Homo sapiens: one gene and its partners. The protein of the gene in region 2 purifies or fractionates together with the protein of the main gene of each other region. This does not show direct contact. Each region holds a gene or a part of one and is shown on either strand. Other genes may lie near its edges. The genes, in order: NFKBIB, IKBKG, PIAS4 and TNFRSF1A.

Region 1 (6,456 bases), on a different chromosome or scaffold from region 2:
CCACTATGAGAACCGACATGGCCCACAATCACAGTGACCGAGGTGGCCTGCCTTTGAAGGTGGGTGCTGACTACCCCGTTTCTGACCCCACCAGGAAAAGGAGGTGGAGCAGCTGGAGCACTTGAGAGACGAACTGAAGAAGGTGACAGAGACGCTGGGGGAGCAGCTCAGGAGGGAGGGCTGACCCCTACCTCAGTCCCTCCTTCCTCCTGACACACCCTGTGGCTTAGGACTGTTGACCCCGAAGCCTCCACCTCACCTAGCACCCCACGCCACCCCTACCCAAACAGGGGAGGAGGCGGACGTGCCTTGGAACCACACCCAAGGAGGTGAGTCTGAGCTGGGCCGGGGGCTGGGCTCAGCCCTGACACAGGAAGCACCCCCACACCTATGCACTCCCACTCCAACCCTTCTGAGTGAATAAAGCACAAAGAAACGCACCCTGCCTCCGTGAGCAGCACTTGATGTGACAGGGATGGGCCCCAGAAGGACCCGGAGGACTGGGAAGACAAGATCAGTCTGGTCTCTGGTTGTCAGAACTAGGGTTTTGTTTATTAAACTGGAAATTATATTAACAATGAAACAAATCACACGGGGCGGGGGTCGTCAGGAAGAGGTTTTGAGGCTGGGGTGGGAGGCAGCCGGGTTTGGCTGCGGCTGCTGTGAACCACAATGTCGTCGTATTCATCCTGGGGGCAAAGGGGACCAGGCAGAGGGGCTCAGGCGGCTGTCACTTTGCCCACCACCCATGTCCTCATAGAGCACCCTAAGAATTAGGTCTCGCCTCAAAGCCCAAGTTCCCCTGCTCCTGGCTCAACCTCCCAGTTTCCTAGCTCTCAGAACTCCATTTTCTTTTCTTTCTTTTTTTTTTTTTTTTTTTTAAGATGGAGTCTCGCTCTGTTGCCCAGGCTGGAATGCAGTGGCGTGATCTAGGTTCACTGCAACCTCCACCTCCCAGGTTCAAGCAATTCTCCTACCTCAGCCTCCCAAGTAGCTGGGATTATAGGCATGCGCCACCACGCCCAGCTAATTTTTGTATTTTTAGTAGAGACAGGGTCTTGCCATGTTGGCCAGGCTGGTCTCGAACTCCTGACCTCGTGATCTGCCTGCCTCGGCCTCCCAAAGTGCTGGGATTACAGGCGTGAGCCACCGCACCTGGCCAGAACTCCATTTTCAAGGTCATTTCTACAGACCAATTTCTAGCCAGCCGCCACTCCAGAGTTTCGGCAACTGAGCTGGCCCTCCTCCACCCCTTCCCTCTGCCTTTACCCAAATTCCTCCGCACCCATCATCCAGCACCGCGCCTTGCCCAAGGACGGATCTGTATTGCTGGGTTCTCTGACTATATCTCTCCCCACCGCTGGCTCGGGTCCTGCCCCAGCACTGCCGGTGTTCAAATCACTGCCACCCAAGGTTTTCTTTTCGCAGTGTGAGTTCTCCAATTCTTGCTGCCTAAAATCACCCCCAGCGCTACCACCCACCCCCGCTGTGTTCACCAATCACTGCGACCAACGCCTTTTCTCCACCCCTGCCTGAGTTCTACCTTTGCCACTGCCTTAGTTTTTCAGCCACTTCTGCCCAAGCTCTTCCCACCACCCCTGTCCAGGTCTCTCCTGACTAGTGCCCCGTGTCACTGGCGCTGCTGCCTGAGTTCTCTAACAGCAGCCCAAGGTCGGTGCCTAATTATCTTCTTGGGCTTCTTGCCTGCCGGTCTATCCTGACCCCCCAGCTGGGCTGCCCTGTCTCTCCTCCTGACTCACGCCCTCGTCTCCGCTGTCGCTGTCGCTACTGCTGCTGCAGGGGCCGGATTTCTCGTCCTCGCCCTCGGGCTCAGGGGCTCCGTGTGCACGGAGGAGGCGGGCGAGGATGGGGTTGGGCCGGAGCATGGCACTGCCGAGTGGGGTGCGGCCACCGTACATGCGGGCAGCAGGGTTCGCGCCTGCCCTCAGGAGAAGCTCCAGCACATCGGCTGCCTGGGCCTCCACTGCCAAATGAAGGGGGCTCCGGCCGCACGTGGGCTCCTGTGGGGGTGCAACAGAAAGGTCAGAGGGCCCGAAGAGGGGACAAGCCCCCTCCCGCCGACGGCATCTTCCCCGAGGTTGGGGCTCACCGGTTTGTCAAGGTCAGCTCCAGCATCTCGGAGCAGCCGGACCATCTCCACATCTTTGTGGATAACGGCCACGTGGAGTGGGGTGTGGCCTGGGGACAGAGTGATTGGCGTCAGATGATGAGGTGAGGGCCCCCCCCACCCCACCGTGCTTTGATCCTGGGGGAGGGTCATGTGGCGTGAGGGTGATTAGGTTTGGGGGCTGGTTCCTGAATTCTTGGGTATGGCAAAGAGGTACCTGGGTACCAAATGCCTATCTCAGATGGCCTGAGCTTGCTGGCAAGTGCTAGTGCCTGAGTTGTTTGAAGCCTGGGGCCCGCGGGTAAACAGCCTGGGGTCTGTGGACAGGGAGCCTGGATTTTGGGGCCAGGAGGAGACCCAAGTCTCTGCTCTTATCACTCAAAGGACCTGAGCTGGCACGCTATTTCACACCTGTAATCCCAGCACTTTGGGAGGCCAAAGCAAGAGGATCACTTGAGCTCAGGAGTTCAAGAAGCTGCCTGGGCAACATGGCAAGACGTCTCTACTAAAAATAAAAAATAAAGGCCAGGCACAGTGGCTCACGCCTGTAATCCCAGCACTTTGGGAGGCTGAGGCGGGTGGATCACGAGGTCAGGAGATCGAGACCATCCTGGCTAACATGGTGAAACCCCATCTCTACTAAAAATACAAAAAATTAGCTGGGCATGGTGGCGGGCGCCTGTAGTCCCAGCTACTCGGGAGGCTGAGGCAGGAGAATGGTGTGAACCCAGGAGGCGGAGCTTGCAGTGAGCTGAGATGGCGCCACTGCACTCCAGCCTGGGCAACAGAGTGAGACTCCATGTCAAAAAAAAAAAAAAAAAAAAACCTTAAATTAAGGTTCCTGCCCAGGCACGGTGGCTCACACCTGTAATCCCAGCACTTTGGGAGGCCATGGCGGGCAGATCACCTAAGGCCAGGCCAGGAGTTCAAGACCAGCCTGGTCAACATGGTAAAACCCCGTCTCTACTAAAAATACAAAAATAAGCTGGGCATGGTAGCATGTGCCTGTAATCCCTGTAATCCCAGCTACTCGGGAGGCTGAGGCAGGAGAATCACCTGAACCTGGGAGGTGGAGGTTGCAGTGAGCCAAGATCACGCCACTGAACTCCAACCTGGCAACAGAGTGAGACTGTCTCAAAAAAAAAAAAAAAAAAAAAAAAGGTACCAAGTAGCTGAAAAGCCTGTGACCTGGGGGCGAGAGGCAGGCCCTGAACACTGGGTCCTGAATGACGTCAGTCCATCTGAGGAGGGGTCTGGTCTCAGGTGGCTGGGCTTATAGGCAGGGGAGCAGAAACTTGGATGTCAGGGCTGTGGGCAGATGAGCCCTTCTTCCCATGAGGCTGAGGAGGGCTGTCTCTGAACCCTGCTGCCCATTGCTGGGAGCCTGGGGTGCCAGAGTTTCACAGAGGGCCTGAGCTCTGCATTCCCCGGTCCTGGGTAGGGTAGGGGTCTGCAATACACTCTGCAGGTGGGGAGCCCGGGGGCCCGACAACTGGATCCTGGCAGCTCTGGGTCTGTGGGTGACAGGTCTGCATCCCAAGTGACCTGGGGCCTCCAGGTGGGGGTCCTGGGTCCTACATATCCAATTCTCAATCATCTGGGCCCTGAGTGGAGGTCCCTGGTCCCGATGTGTGGGCTCCTGAAGCCTAGGCATGATTTCCCAAGGAGCTCAGTCTCAAATCAGGGAAGCTGAGCCCAGGGCCAGGTGCTCTCGCCTAGCCCAGGAGCTGAGTCCTTCCCTGGTGACGACCCTCACCCTCGTAGTTTTCAGCCTCCAGCTGCAGCTTCCAGTCCTCCTCACTCTCCTCTTCTTCCTTCTCCAAGTCGGAATCGGGGTACAAGGCGACAGGGGTATGGTTGGTGTCGGGAGTACGGTCAGGGCCCTGAGCGAGGTAGGTGTCGGGGGCTTCCCTGGGGCGCCGGGGGCGGGGCTGAAGCAGGGCACGGGCACAGGCGTGTGCCCCCACACGGCAGGCCAGGTGCAGCGCCGTGTGGCCCCTACGCTCCGCCACACACAGCCCGGCGCCTGCTGCGTACAGCTTCTCCACCGTGGATGTCTCCCCCAGGATGGCTGCCAGGTGCAGGGCTGTCTGCAGAAGCAGAGGACAGGCGGTAGGGAGTCACACTGGGAACCCTGGACCCCAAGCCCTACACCATCCCTCGTGGCTCACCTGGCCTAGGTCATTCTGCAGGTCCATGTACTCAGTGCCGGCCGAGAAGCCTAGAAGAAAATCCAGGAAGGGTTCATGCTGATGAATCACAGCCAAGTGCAGTGCCCTGGGGACAAAGACCGGGGTGAGAGGGCAAAGTTCAAGTCCTCTTGCATTCCTTCATTGAACAAACATGGGGCGCCTACTGTATGCTAGGCCTTGTGACCACAGTTCTGGAACCCCCTGTCAGCTATCTGGGAGGTCAGAGGTCAGAGTTTCATCAGCAAATTCGTGGAATCAATGTTTATTCAGTGGGATTTCCACTTCTGCCCAAAATGAAGTAACATGGACCAGAATTCACTCCCACGTGAAACAAACAAACAAACAAACAAGAGTCAGACGAAATACGGTATATGAAGCAACAGTGTTGAAGACACTGGACATCGTGCAATGAATCACAGTGACCCCTGAAAGACAGGAAACACGAGGTGGGCCCCACACTTGACTGCCACAGCTTATTGTCTTGAGAGAGTTTCAAAGCCACGGTGCAGAGAGGGGAATCCAAGCAGAGCGCATCAGGTTGTCTGAGGTCAGGAGATGGATATGGAGGAAGAGTCTGTGGAGGCCAGCGTGGCTAGAGTCACAGGACAGAGTACAAAACAGAGTTGCCAAAGGAGAGATTGCTGGGGAACTGCAGGAGGTTCTCTTGTGTATTCCGGAGAATACGGATCAGCCATGCCTGTGAGTCTGTGGGGATGGGAAAACCATCCAAAAGGATTTCAGAAAAGTGCTCGTTACTCACACAGGGCCAGGAATAGTGAGTGTTCCCACCAGCCAGGCTGGAAAAACATCATCACAGGCTATCGGGTGGGATACTCAGGAAGGTCTTGCCTCAATAGTGGGGAATAATTAACTGTAGATGGGGCACTGCTCAACACCCACCTAACAAATCATAAAAGCAAAACTGGAAAGACTCAAACTACTTCCGAGTAATTTAACTCCATCCCAGAATAATATTCAAGAATATTTATTTATTTATTTATTTATTTATTTATTTTAATTTTTATTTTTTGAGAGAGAGTCTTGCCCTGTCGCCCAGGCTGGAGCGCAGTGACACGATCGTGGCTCACTGCAACCTCCACCTCCTGGGTTCAAGCGATTCTTCTGCCTCAGCCTCCCGAGTAGCCGGAACCACAGGTGCGTGCCACCACACCTGGCTAATTTTTGCAGTTTTTAGTACAGACAGGGTTTCACCATGTTGGCCAGGCTGATCTTGAACTCCTGACCTCGTGATCCACCCGCCTTGGCCTCCCAAAGTGCTGGGATTACAGGTGTGAGCCACGGCGCCCGGCCTCAAGAATATTTATAGGAATACAGAATTCTCCAGACTAACAAGGCAAAATTCACAATGTCTGGCACCTAACCAAAGATTATCAGGCATGTAAAGAAGCAGGAAAACATGATCCATAATAGGAACCATCAGTGAATTGAAACTGACCCAGAAATGACAGAGATGTTAGAATTTGCAAACAAGAATATTAAAACAGTTCATTATGCTGGGCACGGTGGCCCACACCTGTAATCCTGGCACTTTGGGAGGCCAAGGCGGGCAGATCACTTGAGGTCAGGAGTTTGAGACCAACCTGGCCAACACGATGAGACCCTGTCTCTACAAAAAATACAAAAAAAATTTAGCCAGGCATGGTGGCATGCGCCTGTAATCCCACCTACACAGGAGGCTGAGGCAGGACAATCATTTGAACCTGAGAAATGGAGGTTGCAGTGAGCTGAGATCGTGCCACTGCACTCCAGCCTGGGCAACAGAGTGAGACTCCGTCTCAAATAATAATAATAAAATAAAATAAATTTCTTTTACTCTATGTGAAATGGCATAATATCACTTTAAGGTAGCCCATGATAACCTAAAGTTGTAAACTATCAACCCTACAGCAGGAGTCAGCAAACTTTTTCTGTAAGGAGCCAGATAACTATTTTAGTCTTTGTAGGTCATATGGTTTCTCTTTTTGGTTTTGTTTTTCTTTTTCTTTTTTTGTTTGTTTGTTTTGTTTTTTTGAGATGGAGTCTCGTTCTGCTGCCCAGGCTGGAGTGCAGTGGCGTGATCTCAGCTCACTGCAACCTCCGCCTCCCGGGTTCAAGCGATTCTCCTGCCTCTCAAGT
Region 2 (6,840 bases):
CTGCCCAGGCACTCTCACTGGGTTCCCATCCTTCATGTTGGGCTGCCCCAGGGCTCTGTCCTAGGACATCTTCTTCTCTGTAACTTCATTCACTCCCACAGGAATTCTGTCCAGTCTCATGCCTTGAACTCCAATCTTGATGCTTAATTAGACCTCTTTTCTAAACTCCACATTCATTTATCAAACTCGACATTTCTACTTGGTTATCTAGTAGCCTTCTCAAAACGAACCTCTCTAAGACCTCCGACAGTCCCCAAAACCCAGATCTACCCAAGGCCTTCTTTGTTATCAGCTGATGGCGAATCCATCCTCCAGCTGTCAAAAGTCTTTTTTGATTCTCTCTCTCTCTCTCACACACACACACACACATACACACACACACACACACACACACAAGAGCACATCTAATCCATCAAGAAATCCTGTTAAAATGTATCCCCCAACCGATCTGATCACACTGAGCAATTAACATTAACTATTTTAGGTGTCATAATGATATTGTGGTTGTTTTTCAGAGTCCTGTCTTAGAGAGAGGCACACTTAAATGTTTAAAGATGATGTCTGAATTCACCTCCAAATAATGGGAAAACTCCTAGGTATATACCGGAGAGAAATGAAAACACATGTGTCCACATGAATGCTTGTAGCAGCATTACTCATAGCAGCCAGAGAGTGGAAACAACCCAAATGTCCATCAACTATGAATAAACAAAATCTAGTACATCCACATGCTATAACATGAACAAATCTTGAAAATATGCTGAGAAATAAACAAGTCACAAAAGATTAAACATTGTATGAGTCTATTTATATAAGATGTCTACAACAGGCAAATCCACAGAGACATAAAGTGGATTAAAGATTGCTGGGGAGTGCCACTTAGGGCTGAGGGGAAGATAAGCTGAGCTAAAGGGTATGGGGTTTCTTTGAGGGGTGACGAAAATGTCCTGTGAATATACATACAACAAACCATTGAATTGTACACTTTAAATGGATGAACTGTGTGACATGCTAATGATATCTCAAGCTGTTATTGAAAATAATAGTGGTGGCCAGGCATGGTGGTTCACACCTGTAATCCCAGCACTTTGGGAGGTCATGGCAAGTGGATCACTTGAGGTCAGGAATTCAAGACCAGCCTGGCCAACATGACAAAACCCTGTATTTACCAAAAATACAAAAAAAAAAAAAATAGCTGGGAGTGATGGTGCATGCCTGTAATCCCAGCTATTTGGGAAGCTGAGGCAGGAGAATCGCTCAAACCTGGGAGATGGAGGTTGCGGTGAGCCAAGATCGTGCCACTGCACTCCATTCTGGGCGACAGAGTGAGACTGGGTCTCAAAAAAAGAGGCCGGGCGCGGTGGCTCATGCCTGTAATCCCAGCACTTTGGGAGGCCGAGGCGGGCGGATGACAAGGTCAAGAGATCAAGACCATCCTGGCCAACATGATGAAACCCCATCTCTACTAAAAATACAAAAATTAGCTGGGCGTGGTGGTGCACAACTGTAGTCCCAGCGGCTGAGGCAGAAGAATCGCTTGAATCCAGGAGGCGGAAGTTGCAGTGGGTGGAGATCACACCACTGCACTCCAGCCTGGTGACAGAGCGAGATTCTGTCTCAAAAAAAAAAAAAAAAGAAAGAAAGAAAGAAAAAGAAATAAAATAATAATGGGAGAGGATTGCGAGGGATATAAACAAAATTAGTCAGAAGTTGATACCTTCAATTGTTGAAGTTGGTAGCTGTGAATGTAAGATTTACTATACTGGCCGAGCGCAGTGGCTCACACCTGTAATCCCAGCACTTTGGGAGTCTGAGGCAGGCAGATCACCTGAGGTCAGGAGTTCAAGACCAGACTGGCCAACATATAGTGAAACCCCGTCTCTACTAAAAATACAAAAATTAGCTGGGCGTAGTGGCGCACGCCTGCAGTCCCAGCTACCTGGGAAGCTGAGGCAGGAGAATCGCTTGAACCCAGGAGGAGGAGGTTAGAGTGAGCTGAGATCATGCCACTGCACTCCAGCCTGGGCGACAGAGCGAGACTCCATCTCTCAAAAACAAACAAACCAAAAAGATTTACTATACTCATTTTTCTACTTTCGTACATTTTTGAAATTTCCAATAATAAAATGCTCAAAGCACTGTCTCTGAGCTGGATTACTGCAATTACCTCTTACCACGCCACCCTTCTTTTACCCTTGCCCACTATGGTCTGTTCTCCCCACCACTGCTAGAACGATCAGTGTAAGACGTAATTCCGATCACATTCCTCCTCTACTGAGAACCCTACCATGGATCCCCGTTGCCTTCTGCGTAAAAGCCAATCTCCCTACAACGGCCTACAAGGCCCTGTACCATCGGGTTCCCCATCCCTTCCTCTCCAACTGTGCTCCCCTCCCTCACTCTGCTCCAGCTATAGTGACCTCCGTGCTATTCCTCTAATGTGCCAGGAGAGCCCATTCATTCTCAGATCACAGAAACAGTATGACGATAGGCAGATGTTGTCTTGCAAAACGAGCAAACAGGCATATGAAATCAGATACCTAGCTGCCAAACTATATGTGAGGCATTTCCGAAGAATTTAACGACCTCGATAGAGCGCAGTCAAGTTTGGTGAACAGAATATGTCTCTGAACTAGAGGAGTCCTCACACAAGGAGTAGGGTCAGACCCCGCAGTGGAGGAGGAGGGAGGAGTAGAAACAGTCCAGCTCGCCGCCCAAGTAACCTGGGTCCTGAATCGGCCCGCCTTGGCCAGTGCTCCAGAAGCGCGGAGCAGGAACGGGCTGGGGCCCAAAAAAGAGGGGGGAGCCTGAACGTCCGGGGGAAGTTTCGGAGGCGGCGGAACGCCCACGGATGGAACCCTGTCTTTGGGGAAAAGGACCACACCTGTCAGCAGAGTCCGTCAGACGTGAGAAGGGTGGGAGCGGCGGACTGTGAACGCTGGTAGGGCCCCGGCGCTCCGAGAAAGTCCCAGTTTCGCGGTCGCCCTTCCCTACCACGCTTCCGGCTTCCGGTGTCATAGCTGTGGGATCCGGAAGTAAAAACACAAGCCCCGCCCCCGAGAACTCGGGAAGCCGGCGAGAAGTGTGAGGCCGCGGTAGGGCCGCATCCCGCTCCGGAGAGAAGTCTGAGTCCGCCAGGCTCTGCAGGCCCGCGGAAGCTCGGTAATGATAAGCACGCCGGCCACTTTGCAGGGCGTCACCGCCTACACGCCCCCTCGTCTCTCGGACGGCGGCGTCTAGCCTCGGGGCGCTCGGCCGCCCCGCCCTCTCCGGGGGAGGAATCAAGAAGAGACTGCCCAATAGGGCCGGCTTGACCCGCGAACAGGCGAGGGTTCCCGGGGGAGTGGCGCGGCAGAAGGCCCCGCCCAGGAGCCGAGGGACAGCCCAGAGGAGGCGTGGCCACGCTGCCGGCGGAAGTGGAGCCCTCCGCGAGCGCGCGAGGCCGCCGGGGCAGGCGGGGAAACCGGACAGTAGGGGCGGGGCCGGGCCGGCGATGGGGATGCGGGAGCACTACGCGGAGCTGCACCCGTGCCCGCCGGAATTGGGGATGCAGAGCAGCGGCAGCGGGTATGGCAGGCAGCCGGCGGGCCGGCCTCCAGCGCAGGTGCCCGAGAGGCAGGGGCTGGCCTGGGATGCGCGCGCACCTGCCCTCGCCCCGCCCCGCCCGCACGAGGGGTGGTGGCCGAGGCCCCGCCCCGCACGCCTCGCCTGAGGCGGGTCCGCTCAGCCCAGGCGCCCGCCCCCGCCCCCGCCGATTAAATGGGCCGGCGGGGCTCAGCCCCCGGAAACGGTCGTACACTTCGGGGCTGCGAGCGCGGAGGGCGACGACGACGAAGCGCAGGTAACCGGCCGGGCGGGCGCCGCGCAGGCGGAGGAGCGTACTGTCCCGCGCTGCGCCGCGCGGCGGTAAAATACACGCTGTTTGTTGTGCTTGAGAACCGAGCAGAATCGAGAGGGTCTTAACCAATCCCTTTATACCCCGCACCTCCTCTCTTGAGCCCCTGAGACCCCGAGAGCGAAGGGGACTTGCCGACCGGGGTCACCCAGCTTGGCAAGGGGAGGGCTGGAGCTGAACTCCAGCATCTGCACCATCTCCCATGCTCCAGGTCATTGTGGAGTTCCCGCTACAGTCGGGAATGAGATGGTCCTGGGCACGCAGTTCCATGCCCCACAAGGATTTTACTCGGTTGTCCAGAATTGATGCTGTAGTCGGAATACACCAATGCTTTGAGTAATTTTGTAATGTACACCCTGAATGAAGGCTGCCTAGGAGAGAGTGGCTGGAGCCCAGAGCCAGCAGTTTCTAACCCATCAACCACTCCCCAATGCCCAGCCGTTCACAAGGAGTGATTTGGGCAATCAGGTGTCACCCTGGTGTGAGACCCCAGAGGAACTCTCAAGAAAGGGGCTAACTTCTCAATGCTCTCCTGTTCTTCTGCCTTGTTAACGAGCCTTTCTTCCACCAGACAGCGTCATGGCAGAGCAGGTGGCCCTGAGCCGGACCCAGGTGTGCGGGATCCTGCGGGAAGAGCTTTTCCAGGGCGATGCCTTCCATCAGTCGGATACACACATATTCATCATCATGGGTGCATCGGTGAGTATCTCCCAGGCCCCAATCTTAAAAGCCAGGAAGTGCCTGCTCCATGCCTCAGCTTTTCCAACTAATTGTTGCAGGGCCCCACAGGCTCTGCTAAGTTGAGCTCCTCCTCCCGCTCCTGCTAGTGCGCCAGGATCATCCCGGCTCTACCTGGTGTGCATATGCACTTGCAAGACTTTTTTTTTTTTTTTTTTTTGGAGACGGAGTTTTGCTCTGGTCGCCCAGGATGGGGTGCAGTGGCGCCATCTTGGCTCACTGCAACCTCGGCCTCCTGGGTTCAAGCGATTCTCCTGCCTCAGCCCCCCAAGTAGCTGAGATTACAGGCATGCACCACCACACCCGGCTAATTTTTGTATTGTTAGTAGAGACGGAGTTTCACCATGTTGACCAGGCTGGTCTCAAACTCCTGACCTCAAGTGATCCGCCCGCCTCGGCCTCCCAAAGTGCTGGGATGACAGGCATGAGCCACCACGCCCGGCTGCAGGACGTTTCTGAACCCTGTGCCTAGCCGCTGAATGTAGCCCTTAATCCTGGAGTTGCAGGCTCTTTAGGGACTGTCTAGATGGACTTCTTGGGGAAAACAGGGAATGCTATTCATTCTGTAGTTTTTTCAGACCTGTTCATGCCTTAACAAATGAGTTCCAAAGGCAGGATCTGAGGCCTGATCTCTGCCTCTTCACTAACACTTCAAGTTCCGTCGATACAAACACTTAGCTTTTCTTTGAACACTGTCTCTTTGCCTCAATTTCGAAAGCCTACCAAGGAGCTCTGCCTCACCCCACCTGGCCCCAATTGTCCAGCTTGTAGAACCGCCATTCTGCACTCATAGGAAAGACAAAAGAATAGTATAGCATGAGGATTTCCATGGGAGGGGAGGGAGGGGTGGTCCTAGGACAGCCATCGCCCGAGACTAGAGCACCCTCCCCTGTGTCCCATGGGGCAGTGAGACTGTGCAGGGGCTGGTGGAACAAGGGCTTCATCTCAAATTACACGTGGTCTCAGTTTTCACTTTTAACCCTGGATGCACTCAAGAATCTCTCTGCTCATTACTGTATGACCATCTTTGCCATTAACTTACCTTGTAACCTTGAGCAGGAGCTCTATCAAAACTAGTTAGTTCTTCCACATCGTGCGCCCCTCAGTGCTGGCTGAGCTCAGTGGTTCTTTGTTCACATAGAACAACGCGCTGTCACACTTTGTCAAACCTACTCCTTGACACCTTTGTACTTCTGATCAGAACTTAGAAAAGGAGAGCCAAAAGGGAATGAGGAGGCAGCCGAGGGAGAAGGGCTCTGCCAGTGGCAGAGTAAGGAGGGGCCATTGTCCTCTGACTCCCCATAAGCCTGAGACCCAGGAGAGGTACCAGGTGGAGCCCACAGTAGATTGGGCTTGGCCTCAGCCCCAGCCCCAGCCTGGTCCCCTCAGAAGAGCCATACCTGGCCGGGCACGGTGGCTCACGCCTGTATTCCCAGCACTTTGGGAGGCCGAGGCAGGTGGATCGCCTGAGGTCAGGAGTTTGACACCAGCCTGGCCAACATGGCGAAACCCAGTCTCTACTTAAAATACAAAAATTGGCTGGGCGCAGTGGCTCACATCTGTAATCCCAGCACTTTGGGGGGCCAAGGTGGGCAGATCACAAGGTCAAGAGATCGAGACCATCCTGGCCAACATGGTGAAACCCCATCTCTACTAAAAATACAAAAATTAGCTGGGCGTGGTGGTGCGTGCCTGTAGTCCCAGCTACTCAGTAGGCTGAGGCAGTAGAATCGCTTGAATCAGGGAGTCAGAGGTTGCAGTGAGCTGAGATCGCGCCACTGCACTCCAGCCTGGCGACAGAGCGAGACTCTGTCTCAAAACAAAACAAAACAAAAAGGCCGGGCGCAGTGGCTCACGTCTGTAATCCCAGCACTTTGGGAGGCTGAAGCGGGTGGATCATGAGGTCAGGAGATTGAGACCATCCTGGCTAACATGGTGAAATCCCGTCTCTACTAAATAAAAAATTAGCCAGGCCTGGTGTGGGCACCTGTAGTCCAGCTACTCAGGAGGCTGAGGCAGGAGAAAGGCGTGAACTCGGGAGGCGGAGCTTGCAGTGAGCAGAAATCGCAACACTGCATTCCAGCCTGGGTGACAGAGTGAGACTCCATCTCAAAAAAAAAAAAAAAATAACAAAAATTAGTTAGGTGTAGTGGCACCCATCTGTAATCCCAGCTACTTGGGAGGCTGAGGCAGGAAAATCGCTTGAA
Region 3 (7,035 bases), on a different chromosome or scaffold from region 2:
CACCTGACTTAACTTCCTGCTCATGCTGGACACCAGAATAAATTCCTAAGGCGGGCGGTGTAAACCGGGGACCCCCAGCTCCTGGGATTCACCTACTTTCTCCCCCTCCAATTCAGGGTGTGGATTTCAATGTATGCAGCCTTCTGGGACCTCAGCAGGGCAGAGGATCATGGGACACAGAGTCTCTTGGGGATACGTGGAATCCCCTAACCCAGGGAGGTCTCGCCCGGGTTATCCTGCCCTAGGGGACACTGGACAATGTCTGGGGACATCTGTGGTTGTCACAACAGGGGTGTGTTCTTGTCATGGCGTGGGTGGAGGCGAGGAATGCTCCTCCGCTCCCTGCAATGCCCAGGATGGGCCCAGGAGGGCAAGACCGTGTTAAAAGGGCACAGTCAGTCCGCCTCTCTCTAGCAGGCTGCAGGGCACAGGCAGTGGGCACACAGGCCAGCACCTGAGACCCAGGATGGGGTTTTCTGGAAGGAAGCAAACCCGGCCACTGCCTTGCAGCACGGTTCTGGACTGAGCCCGAGCGAGGCCTGCAGTGGACGTGGCTGCCGGCTCTCCCCAGTGAGCCCAGGAGAAAGTGGGTGGGCGGGCGGTGGGGTGCTGGGCTGGGGGAGGTGCCGCACACCTGGAGTTCCGGATCAACTCCACCTGTCTTGGCGTCAATGCGAAGATGCACGGGCTCTCCTGAAGCTTCTCGTTGTTCTGTGGGACTGAAGACAAACACGGGGTCAGGGGCATGTCTGGTCCCTGGCAGGTCCCCCGAGCCCAGTCGCTTTTCCCAGCCTGCGCCTCTTCAGACCAGGAAACAGGAAATGGGAAGTTGGCTGGACAGATATGTGGGGCAGAGGTGGGGGCCGCCCAGGAAGGAGGATGAGGGAGGACTCCCGCCCATCCCCTTCTCGGGGCCGCTCACCATGGCCTGTGTCCTGTTGACGGCCACTCAGATTGCTGGGTGACCTTCGCAGCCTGTGGGATGCAGGCGTCTACTTAGGAAACCGAAAAGTGCCGAGCTGCCTGGCGGGGAGAGCTGGACCCAGCCAGGCCAGCAGGACACTGCCATACCTCCTCTCTCCTGAGCACAAACCGGACCCGGCCCTTGCTCTCCTCCTGCCTGCAGGGTGGCCACGTCACCCGGACAGAGGTGGTGCGGGGGGTACTGACGGGATGAAGGCCATGGTGCTCACAAGCCTGGGCCCTACCCTCTTACTTACAACTGGACTGACAGGCAGAGGCGCAGTCAGAAAACATTGGTTTTTGTTTGTTTTGTTTTGTTTTGTTTTGTTTTGGAGATGGAGTTTTACCCTGTCGCCCAGGCTGGAGTGCAATGGCACGATCTCGGCTGACTGCAACCTCCGTCTCCCGGGTTTAAGCGATTCTCCTGCCTCAACCTCCCGAATAGCCACCAAGCCTGGCTAATTTTTGTATTTTTAGTAGAGATGGGATTTCGCCATGTTGGCCAGGCTGGTTTCGAACTCGTGACCTCAGGTGATCCGCCCATCTCAAACTCTCAAAATGCTGGGATTACAGGCGTGAGCCACTGTGCCCAGCCAGCCCCATTTTTTTTTTTTTTTTTGAGACTTTGTTTCACTCTTGTTGCCCAGGCTGGACTGCAATAGCACAATCTCAGCTCACTGCAACCTCCACCTCCTGGGTTCAAGTGATCCTCCTGCCTCAGCCTCCCAAAACAGCTGGGATTACAGGCATGAGCCACCACGCCCGGCTAATTTTCTATTTTTAGTAGAGGTAGGGTTTCTCCATGTTGGCCAGGCTGCTCTCGAACTCCCGACCTCAGGTGATCTGCCCACCTCGGCCTCCCAATGTGCTGGAATTACAGGCATGAGCTACGGCGCCTGGCTGCCGCATCTCTTAAAAAAACAGCAGGGTGTGGTGTCTCAAAAAAAAAAAAAATAGCCAGGCCTGGTTCGGGCGCCTGTAATCCCAGCTACTTGGGAGGCTGAGGCAGGAGAATTGTCTGAAGCTGAGAGGCAAAGGTTGCAGTGAGTGGAGATCACACCACTGCCTGGGCGACAGAGTGAGACTGTTTCCAAAAAAACCCAAAAAAACAAAAACAAAAACAAACGGCCAGGCGCGGTGGCTCACGCCTGTAATCCCAGCATTTTGGGAGGCCGAGGGGGGTGGATCACGAGGTCAGGAGATCGAGACCATCCTGGCTAACACGGTGAAACCCCATCTCTACTAAAAATACAAAAAATTAGCTGGGTGTAGTGGCAGGCGCCTGCAGTCCCAGCTACTAGGGAGGCTGAGGCAGGAGAATGGCGCGAACCTGGGAGGCGGAGCTTGCAGGGAGGCGAAGCTTGCAGTGAGCCAAGATCGTGCCACTGCACTCCAGCCTGGGCTACAGAGCGAGACTCTGTCTCAAAAAAAACCACCAAAAACAACAACAACAACAAAAAAAACAAAACTCTAGCTGAACAACAAAAAGACAGTGAGAACACAAACTACCAATATCAGAAATGAAAGAACAATAGTACAGACCCTACAGCTTTTCGGTTCAATAGGGGAATAAAAGGTGAAACTTTATGCCAATGAATCTGACAACTTAGTGACATGGACAAATCCTCCCAAAGATGCAAATTACCAAAACGGGTACCAAAAGATACAGGAAGTTTGAAAAGCTCTTTACCTGTTAAGGAAGTTGGATCCATAATTAAAACCTTTTCTGAAAACTGCAGGTCCAGATTGGGCATGGTGGCTCATGCCTGTAATCCCAGCACTTTGGGGGCTGAGGTGGGTGGATTGCTTGAGCCCAGGAGTTTGAGGCCAGCCTGGGCAACAAAGTGAGACCTTGTCTCTACAAAAAATTTTTAAATTAGCCAGGTGTGGAGGTGCACACCACCTGTAGTCCCAGCTACTTTGGAGGCTGAGGCAGGAGGATTGCTTGAACCCAGGAAGTGGAGGCTGCAGTGAGCCATGATCGTACCACTGCACTCCAGCCTGGGCAACAGAATCAGACCCCATCTCAAAAAAAAAAAAAAAAAAAAAGAAAAAGAAAATGCAGGTCCATATCGGTGAATTCTATAAAACATTTTGGAAAGAAACCACATAAACCGTACATAAACTCTTTCAAAAAACAGAGAAGGAAAGCATACTTCTTATTTTACAAGGCCAGCATAACTCTGATACCAAAACCTCACAACTCAGCATCAAGGAAGGAAAATTCCCGATGAATACCCCTCATGAACACAGATGTAAAATCCTCCACAAAATATCAGCCAGTATTTCAGGCCCCTGCGATTTGTGTAGAAATCCAAGACCGGTTTAAATCCTCTCTACACACCCAGGCCAGGTGCGGTGGCTCATGCCTGGAATCCCAGCACTGTGGAGGCGAGGCAGGTGGATCACTTGAGGTCAGGAGTTCAAGACCAGCCTGGACAATATGGTAACCCCATCTCTACTAAAAATACAAAAATTAGCCAGGCATGGTGACACACGCCTCTAATCCCAGCTACTCGGGAGGCTGAGGAGAATCGCTTAAACCCAGAAGGCGGAGGTTGCAGTGAGCCGAGATTGTGTAACTGCACTCCAGCCTGGGTGACAGAGTGAGGCTCTGTATCAATAATATAAAATGAGGTAAAATAAAATAAAATACCTCTCTACACACCCACTAGCATGGCTAAAATGAAAGGACTGGCAACTCTAAGAGATGGCAAAGGTGTAGAGCAATCAGAACTCTCTGCTGGTGGGGTTATAAGACAGTACCATCACTCTGGGAAACTACCCTTATAAAGGTAAGCACAGACCTACCCTATCACCCAGGAATCAGGAATCCCACTCCAAAGTATTTTCCCTCAATACATGGAAACATGCGTTCAAAGAAACTTGCAGGCTGGGCACAGCGGCTCATGCCTGTAACCCCAACCCTTCAGGAGGCCAAGGTGGGAGGATCGCTGTAGCACAGGAGTTGGAGCCCAGCCCAGGCAACACAGTGAGACCTTGTCTCTAAAAAAAGTTTTTAAATAAGCCTGAGCCAGGTGTGCTGGTGTGCAGCTGTCATTCCCGCTACTCAGGAGGCTGAGGTGAGAGGACTGCTTGGGCTCAGAAGTTCGAGACCAGCCTGGGCAACATAGCAAGACTGTGTCTACATTAAAAAATATATTTAGATACAAAGCAAAAACGCTGAGCAGCGTGCACGTCCTGCTATCACTTGTGTAATGAAAATGGAGAGAAGGCATCTGAGTAAACACCTATTTGTTTATAAGTGTAAAAAATATCGGAAGAGCGTGGGGGAGCGAGAATCTGGCCACAATGGCAGCCTTGCAGTGGCCGGGAGACGAGACAACGAGATGACAGGCAAGCCCTTTAGAACAGGGATGGCGAACTGCCCCTGGTAAAGGCTGGAGCTCATCAGCTTCGCAGGCTATGTCTGTGCTCCCAGGTGCTCCCAGGACGGCAGTGCACACAGTGGTGTGGCCTGCACCCACGACAGGGCCTTTACAAGAACCGGAGCCATGGGATCGCACCTCAACTACCAGCACTGTCTTGGAACTTTCTCAATTAAAACCCACGAGAAGCCGGGTGCAGTGGCTCACGCCTGTAATCCCAGCACTTTGGGAGGCCGAGGCAGTCGGATCATGAGGTCAGGAGATAGAGACCATCCTGGCTAACATGGTGAAACCCCGTCTCTACTAAAAATACAAAAAATTAGCCGGGCGTGGTGGCAGGCGCCTGTGGTCCCAGCTACTCGGGAGGCTGAGGCAGGAGAATGGCGTGAACCTGGGAGGCGGAGCTTGCAGTGAGCTGAGATCCTGCCGCTGCACTCCAGCCCGGGCGACAGCGAGACTCCATTTCAAAAAAAAAAAAAAGAAAAAAGCCAGACTCCCTGGGCTCGGCTCCCAGCCCTGCCAGGGCCTCTGTGGCCTCAGCCTGCACGTCCCGCCCATGTTGACCTGTTTCTTCGGGGACCGGTGCCGGGTCTGTGGCTGGCCCTCAGGAAGAGGGGGCTGCCACAGCCGGTTCCCGTTTATATGCTCAGGGCACAGCCAGTCTCTGCAGAGGTGATGGGCTGTGGAGTCCCGGCTGGGCCCTTGAGGAAGGCCGCCTAATTGGGAGGGGGGCACACAGGCCACCTGCAGACGCGCCCAGGTCTGCCCTGAGTGCCAGGGGAGCAATGGTTCAGGGGCAGGGAGGCTGCACGGGAGCCTACACCTGAGCTGGGCCTTGAGCTTCCAGGCTGGGTCGGAGGTGAAAACACAGACACCCCACCCCTCAGTGTCTCAGAAGGAGGTAGGGGAGAAGGGTGGGTCCCCAGCAGGCAGCAAGGGAGCCACCCAGCTGGCCAGGGATTGTTGCCAGCCCATGCCTGGGGCAGACAGGGCCCAGTCATTGAAGAACAAGACTCTGGGGTCCCTGCCCTGGGAGGGCTCCTCCCTCTGGGGGAGACCGGGCTGTGCTTCTCTGCTGGGGGCCTGGGAGGTGCCCTGTGCTCTCACTGCTGTGCCACTGGCCCCGGGCCGCTGACGGTTCCCCCCAAACACCCGGCCCCCCTATGCTGGGGAAGGGGCTGTGGGGTCTCCCTCAAACCTGCCCTTCTGCCCTCGGGGTCAGCTGTTTGGGGCCAGAAACCCAGGTGGCATCCATGAAGCCCCCGTCTCTGCTGTCCTGCAAACATCCACTCCCTCAGCCAGTCCTGTCAGCTCTGTTTTCAAATCCCGCCCGGTGCAGACGACTGCCCCCAGCTCTGCCGGTCTCAGCAGCCAGAGCCCGCCCCCTGGGATGGCTCCGCAGGAGACCCCTGACCCTCAGTACCCCTGCTCAGGGCCACACACACCCCGGCGCACACACGGCCACCACCCTGGCCTCCTGCTTGGGCCCCACCAGCCATGCTGCATCAGGGCCTCCGCACCTGCCATTCCCTCTTCTGGAACCTTCCTCCCCCGACCAGCCTCATGGCCCTATATTTGTCTTTGTACAAATGTCACCAGAAGGAAAGCCTTCGCTGAGCACCCCATTTAAAAACCGCACCCCCCGCCACCTCACTTTTCTCCAAACCTTCTCCTCCTAAGGAGCGACTCAGTTTCCCTACATCACTCTGCTGCTCCTTCTTGTTGGGCCACTGAAGCATGAAGTTCCCCAAGGGGGAGATGGTTTCGTGGGCTGCCCAGCATCCAAGGCCACGGGACCAAGGCAAGGGCACCACTGAACCAGATGCACCTTTGGGGCCAGGTGCAAGATCAGGTGACCACGGGGGCCCTGCCAGGCAGAGCCGGTTCTGGGGTGAGGTGCTCAGCCAGGCCCTCCGGCCCGGGCACGAAAAGCAGCCCCTGGGCCCGATCCGAGAGCCCAACAAGAAGGGCCCAGCCGTTGGCTCCACCCAAGGCTGCCAGGGAGCCTCACGAGATGCTGCTGACGATGAATATTTAACGCTGTGAGCAGATGCTCACAGTATGGGGGGTGGTTATAAAATAGCAGCCAGGACACAGCCACACATTCCTACAATCACACATGCAAAGGGAGAAGGCGGCAAGCACCGGCCCGGTGTACCGAGGCGGCCCACTCGGGCAGCAGGGCGCCGGCCGGACTGCTCTGCTGTTGACTCCAGTTTTCTAGGACAAGCGCATAATTGTACAAGTTTAAATAGAAATGAAACACAGGGAGTTTTTAAAAGGCTGACTGGGGCCGGGCCTGGTGGCTCACGCCTATAATCCCAGCACTTTGGGAGGCCGAGGCAGGTGGATCACTTGAGGTTAGGAATTCAAGACAAGCCTGGTCAACATGACGAAACCCCGTCTCCATTAAAAATACAAAAAATGAGACTGGGCGCAGTGGCTCACGCCTGTAACCCCAGCACTTTGGGAGGCCAAGGTAGGTGGATCACCTGAAGTCAGGAGTTCAAGACTAGCCTGGTCAAGATGGTGAAACCTCGTCTCTACTAAAAGTACATAAAATTAGCTGGGTGTGGTGGTGCGTGCCTGTAATCTCAGTTACTTGGGAGGCTGAGGCAGGAGAATCGCTTGAAGCCAGGAGGCTGTAGTAAGCCAAGATCGCGCCACTGCACTCCAGCACGGG
Region 4 (3,841 bases), on a different chromosome or scaffold from region 2:
AACAAACAAAACCTACAACACGTCTGACACAAAACTATTTATTTTCCATTAATCTTCTTTTTTTTTTTTTTTTTTTTTTTTGACACAGAGTCCTGCTCTGTCGCCCAGGCTGGAATGCAGTGGCGCGATCTCGGCTCACTGCAACCTCTGCCTCCCAGATTCAAGCAATTCTCCTGCTTCAGCCTCCCAAGTAGCTGGGATTACAGGCACGTGCCACCATGCCTGGCTAATTTTTGTATTTTTAGTAGAGATGGGGTTTCACCATCTTGGTCAGGCTGGTCTCAAACTCCTGGTGATCCACCTGCCTCTGCCTCCCAAAGTGCTGGGATTACAGCCGTGAGCCACTGCACCCAGCCGGCTTCATCTCTTCTTGAAATCACTTTTATACCATTCTATGTGGTTCTCACCATGAGCTTGAGTGGTGGGCTAAAGTGCCTCTCCCTGCTTTCAGCTTCCTGCTGGGAACTCACTCTCTCAAGTTCCTTCCAGCACCACCCCATAGAGTTCCCATCACTCCACACTGTCCAGTGACAACTCCCAACATGGAAGATCTGCTAGTTCTACAGGGTGCTCTCTGGCTGCCCCAGTAACATGTGTTTTTAAATTTTTCACATGCATGTTTGACCCCGACTCCCCGAAGTCAGGTACTGTAACTAGCAGTGTCATTTAAGAAAAAGCCCTTTAACCTCTCTTTGCCAAAGGATTCTTATCAGCAAAACAGTGATGAAACAACAATCCCATAACAGCTAGCTGGCTACCTTCTCAAGCACTTATTAAATGAGGCATAATGATTTTGCTTAATCCTCAATCCTGAGAGGTGGGCGATCCCTGTGGTGATGAGGAAACCGAGGCTTGGGGGTTAATGGCTTGCCTAGATTCACACTGCTAGCCAAGGAATGAACTGGAATTTACACCCTGACCCTGACTGCTTTTCACATTTTCTACACAGCCTTTTCAAGATCCCTGCCAATTCTAAAATTAAATGATTCTATGATTAACTGTGTTTCATTCTTCTGCATCAGTTCCCAAAACAAATTATATCAAGAGACAGCAAAAATATTTGTAAAGAAAGGATGTCCAACAATCTGTGTGGTTGTTTTTCTGTGTTCCTCCAATGGTAGGGCCTCTGTTCACCAGTGCCGTCTCTTCTTTTAGCTGTAAGAAAAGCCTGGAGTGCACGAAGTTGTGCCTACCCCAGATTGAGAATGTTAAGGGCACTGAGGACTCAGGTGAGGAGAAGTGACCTGGTGCCCATGCTCACCTGCCCTCTCCCTCTTCTTGCCCCCACCCGTCCATCCATCCCACCCATCCATCTATCCCTGCGGCCCCCCTCTGCCCGCTCCTCTGACCAACACCTGCTTTGTCTGCAGGCACCACAGTGCTGTTGCCCCTGGTCATTTTCTTTGGTCTTTGCCTTTTATCCCTCCTCTTCATTGGTTTAATGTATCGCTACCAACGGTGGAAGTCCAAGCTCTACTCCATTGGTGAGTGGGGGCTTTGGGAGGGAGAGGGAGCTGGTGGGGGTGAGGGAGGACATGGGTGGGTGCGATGGACATGTGTGGAGGGAGGTGAGGAGTGTCCCCTCAGTTCATACCGCTGGGGACTCTGGGCAGAAGGTGGCCCTGGATGGCTGGGGAGATGTCGAGCTGCATCAGTAGCTCTCTCGTCCCTGGGGCCACATAGGCCCTGAGGCATGTCACCACAAGTCCCCACTGCCAGCTGAGTCCAGGGTGCCAGGGCTGAGAGAGGAAGTGAAATTTATGATGCTTTCTTTCTTTTTCCTCAGTTTGTGGGAAATCGACACCTGAAAAAGAGGTGAGATGAAATGAGAGAGTTACTCCCAAATGTCCCTGACCATTCCTTATAATTGCCTAATGCTCAGATCCCCTGGAATCATCCTTCACTTTCCGGGGGCTCGCCTCATTCCCTCTAAGTCCCAACCCCCACGTAGAATAAAGAGGGCCGGGGCTGGTTTTCGCTGCCGCACTAATGCTGCGCCACCTTCTCTCTTTCAGGGGGAGCTTGAAGGAACTACTACTAAGCCCCTGGCCCCAAACCCAAGCTTCAGTCCCACTCCAGGCTTCACCCCCACCCTGGGCTTCAGTCCCGTGCCCAGTTCCACCTTCACCTCCAGCTCCACCTATACCCCCGGTGACTGTCCCAACTTTGCGGCTCCCCGCAGAGAGGTGGCACCACCCTATCAGGGGGCTGACCCCATCCTTGCGACAGCCCTCGCCTCCGACCCCATCCCCAACCCCCTTCAGAAGTGGGAGGACAGCGCCCACAAGCCACAGAGCCTAGACAGTGAGTTTCTCCCGCGGCTGGAGACGAGGAGGCTGGGGGAGGGCCGGGGGAGCGCGGGAGGCGCTCCCAGAGGGGACCACGAGAGGCGGAGGGCGCGGGATGCGGGGCGGGGCCTGGGGTTGCCGCCCGAGGCTCACCGGCCCGCGTCCCCGCAGCTGATGACCCCGCGACGCTGTACGCCGTGGTGGAGAACGTGCCCCCGTTGCGCTGGAAGGAATTCGTGCGGCGCCTAGGGCTGAGCGACCACGAGATCGATCGGCTGGAGCTGCAGAACGGGCGCTGCCTGCGCGAGGCGCAATACAGCATGCTGGCGACCTGGAGGCGGCGCACGCCGCGGCGCGAGGCCACGCTGGAGCTGCTGGGACGCGTGCTCCGCGACATGGACCTGCTGGGCTGCCTGGAGGACATCGAGGAGGCGCTTTGCGGCCCCGCCGCCCTCCCGCCCGCGCCCAGTCTTCTCAGATGAGGCTGCGCCCCTGCGGGCAGCTCTAAGGACCGTCCTGCGAGATCGCCTTCCAACCCCACTTTTTTCTGGAAAGGAGGGGTCCTGCAGGGGCAAGCAGGAGCTAGCAGCCGCCTACTTGGTGCTAACCCCTCGATGTACATAGCTTTTCTCAGCTGCCTGCGCGCCGCCGACAGTCAGCGCTGTGCGCGCGGAGAGAGGTGCGCCGTGGGCTCAAGAGCCTGAGTGGGTGGTTTGCGAGGATGAGGGACGCTATGCCTCATGCCCGTTTTGGGTGTCCTCACCAGCAAGGCTGCTCGGGGGCCCCTGGTTCGTCCCTGAGCCTTTTTCACAGTGCATAAGCAGTTTTTTTTGTTTTTGTTTTGTTTTGTTTTGTTTTTAAATCAATCATGTTACACTAATAGAAACTTGGCACTCCTGTGCCCTCTGCCTGGACAAGCACATAGCAAGCTGAACTGTCCTAAGGCAGGGGCGAGCACGGAACAATGGGGCCTTCAGCTGGAGCTGTGGACTTTTGTACATACACTAAAATTCTGAAGTTAAAGCTCTGCTCTTGGAGACAGTGGTCTGTCGGGATGGGAGGTGGGGGCAGAGGCCCAGATCCTGAGGGGTGAGATGGGAAAAGCCCTGCACTAGGGCCAGGTAGCCCATCACCATCACGCCAAGTGACAGAGGAGTAGCAGGTTCTTGTTCTGAACACCGTCATCTGTTGCCCAAGCTGGAGTGCGCTCACTGCAGCCTCCAACCCTTGGGCTCATGGGGTCCTCCCGCCTCAGCCTCCGGACACAGGCACACCACCACACCTGGGTAATTTTTAAAATTTTTTTTTGTAAAGACAGGGTTTCCCTATATTGCCCAGGCTGGTCTGGAACTCCTGGGCTCAAGGGATCCTCCCACCTCAGCCTCCCAAAGTGCTGGGATTACAGGCAGCCATGCCCAGCCAGGGCAGTCATTTTTATGCACAACTTTCTGTGGGGCTCAGGTGCACCTATGATACATAAATTTACAGTTCTTGATCCCCAAACAGAGCAGGAGGCAGGGTGCCTGGGCCAGGCTTCCTTTGGGAAATGTGGT

Evidence for each region.
Region 1: the proteins of IKBKG (region 2) and NFKBIB purify together in Homo sapiens (affinity purification with western blotting; 5 studies listed by BioGRID and IntAct, with this or other methods). This does not show direct contact.
Region 3: the proteins of IKBKG (region 2) and PIAS4 purify together in Homo sapiens (affinity purification with western blotting; 5 studies listed by BioGRID, with this or other methods). This does not show direct contact.
Region 4: the proteins of IKBKG (region 2) and TNFRSF1A purify together in Homo sapiens (affinity purification with western blotting; 4 studies listed by BioGRID, with this or other methods). This does not show direct contact.

The regions. Positions count from the first base shown.
Region 1 is NC_000019.10:38,902,964-38,909,419, reverse strand, and holds the end of NFKBIB (NF-kappa-B inhibitor beta), read right to left. Parts: intron 4,406-6,456; coding exon 4,300-4,405; intron 4,219-4,299; coding exon 3,885-4,218; intron 2,200-3,884; coding exon 2,111-2,199; intron 2,022-2,110; coding exon 1,761-2,021; coding exon of another isoform or gene 1,713-1,760; exon of another isoform or gene 690-1,712; coding exon 588-689; 3' UTR 531-587; downstream 1-530. UniProt on the Homo sapiens protein: Inhibits NF-kappa-B by complexing with and trapping it in the cytoplasm.
Region 2 is NC_000023.11:154,543,790-154,550,629, reverse strand, and holds the start of IKBKG (NF-kappa-B essential modulator), read right to left. Parts: upstream 3,011-6,840; 5' UTR 2,885-3,010; intron 2,784-2,884; exon of another isoform or gene 2,541-2,783; intron 1-2,540. Other genes in the region: G6PD (glucose-6-phosphate 1-dehydrogenase), read left to right, coding at 3,760-3,841, 4,467-4,594. UniProt on the Homo sapiens protein: Regulatory subunit of the IKK core complex which phosphorylates inhibitors of NF-kappa-B thus leading to the dissociation of the inhibitor/NF-kappa-B complex and ultimately the degradation of the inhibitor.
Region 3 is NC_000019.10:4,017,720-4,024,754, reverse strand, and holds part of PIAS4 (E3 SUMO-protein ligase PIAS4), read right to left. Parts: intron 720-7,035; coding exon 635-719; intron 1-634.
Region 4 is NC_000012.12:6,328,241-6,332,081, reverse strand, and holds the end of TNFRSF1A (tumor necrosis factor receptor superfamily member 1A isoform 1 precursor), read left to right. Parts: intron 1-88; exon of another isoform or gene 89-114; coding exon of another isoform or gene 115-206; intron 207-1,155; coding exon 1,156-1,229; intron 1,230-1,370; coding exon 1,371-1,484; intron 1,485-1,786; coding exon 1,787-1,815; intron 1,816-2,015; coding exon 2,016-2,304; intron 2,305-2,459; coding exon 2,460-2,770; 3' UTR 2,771-3,311; downstream 3,312-3,841.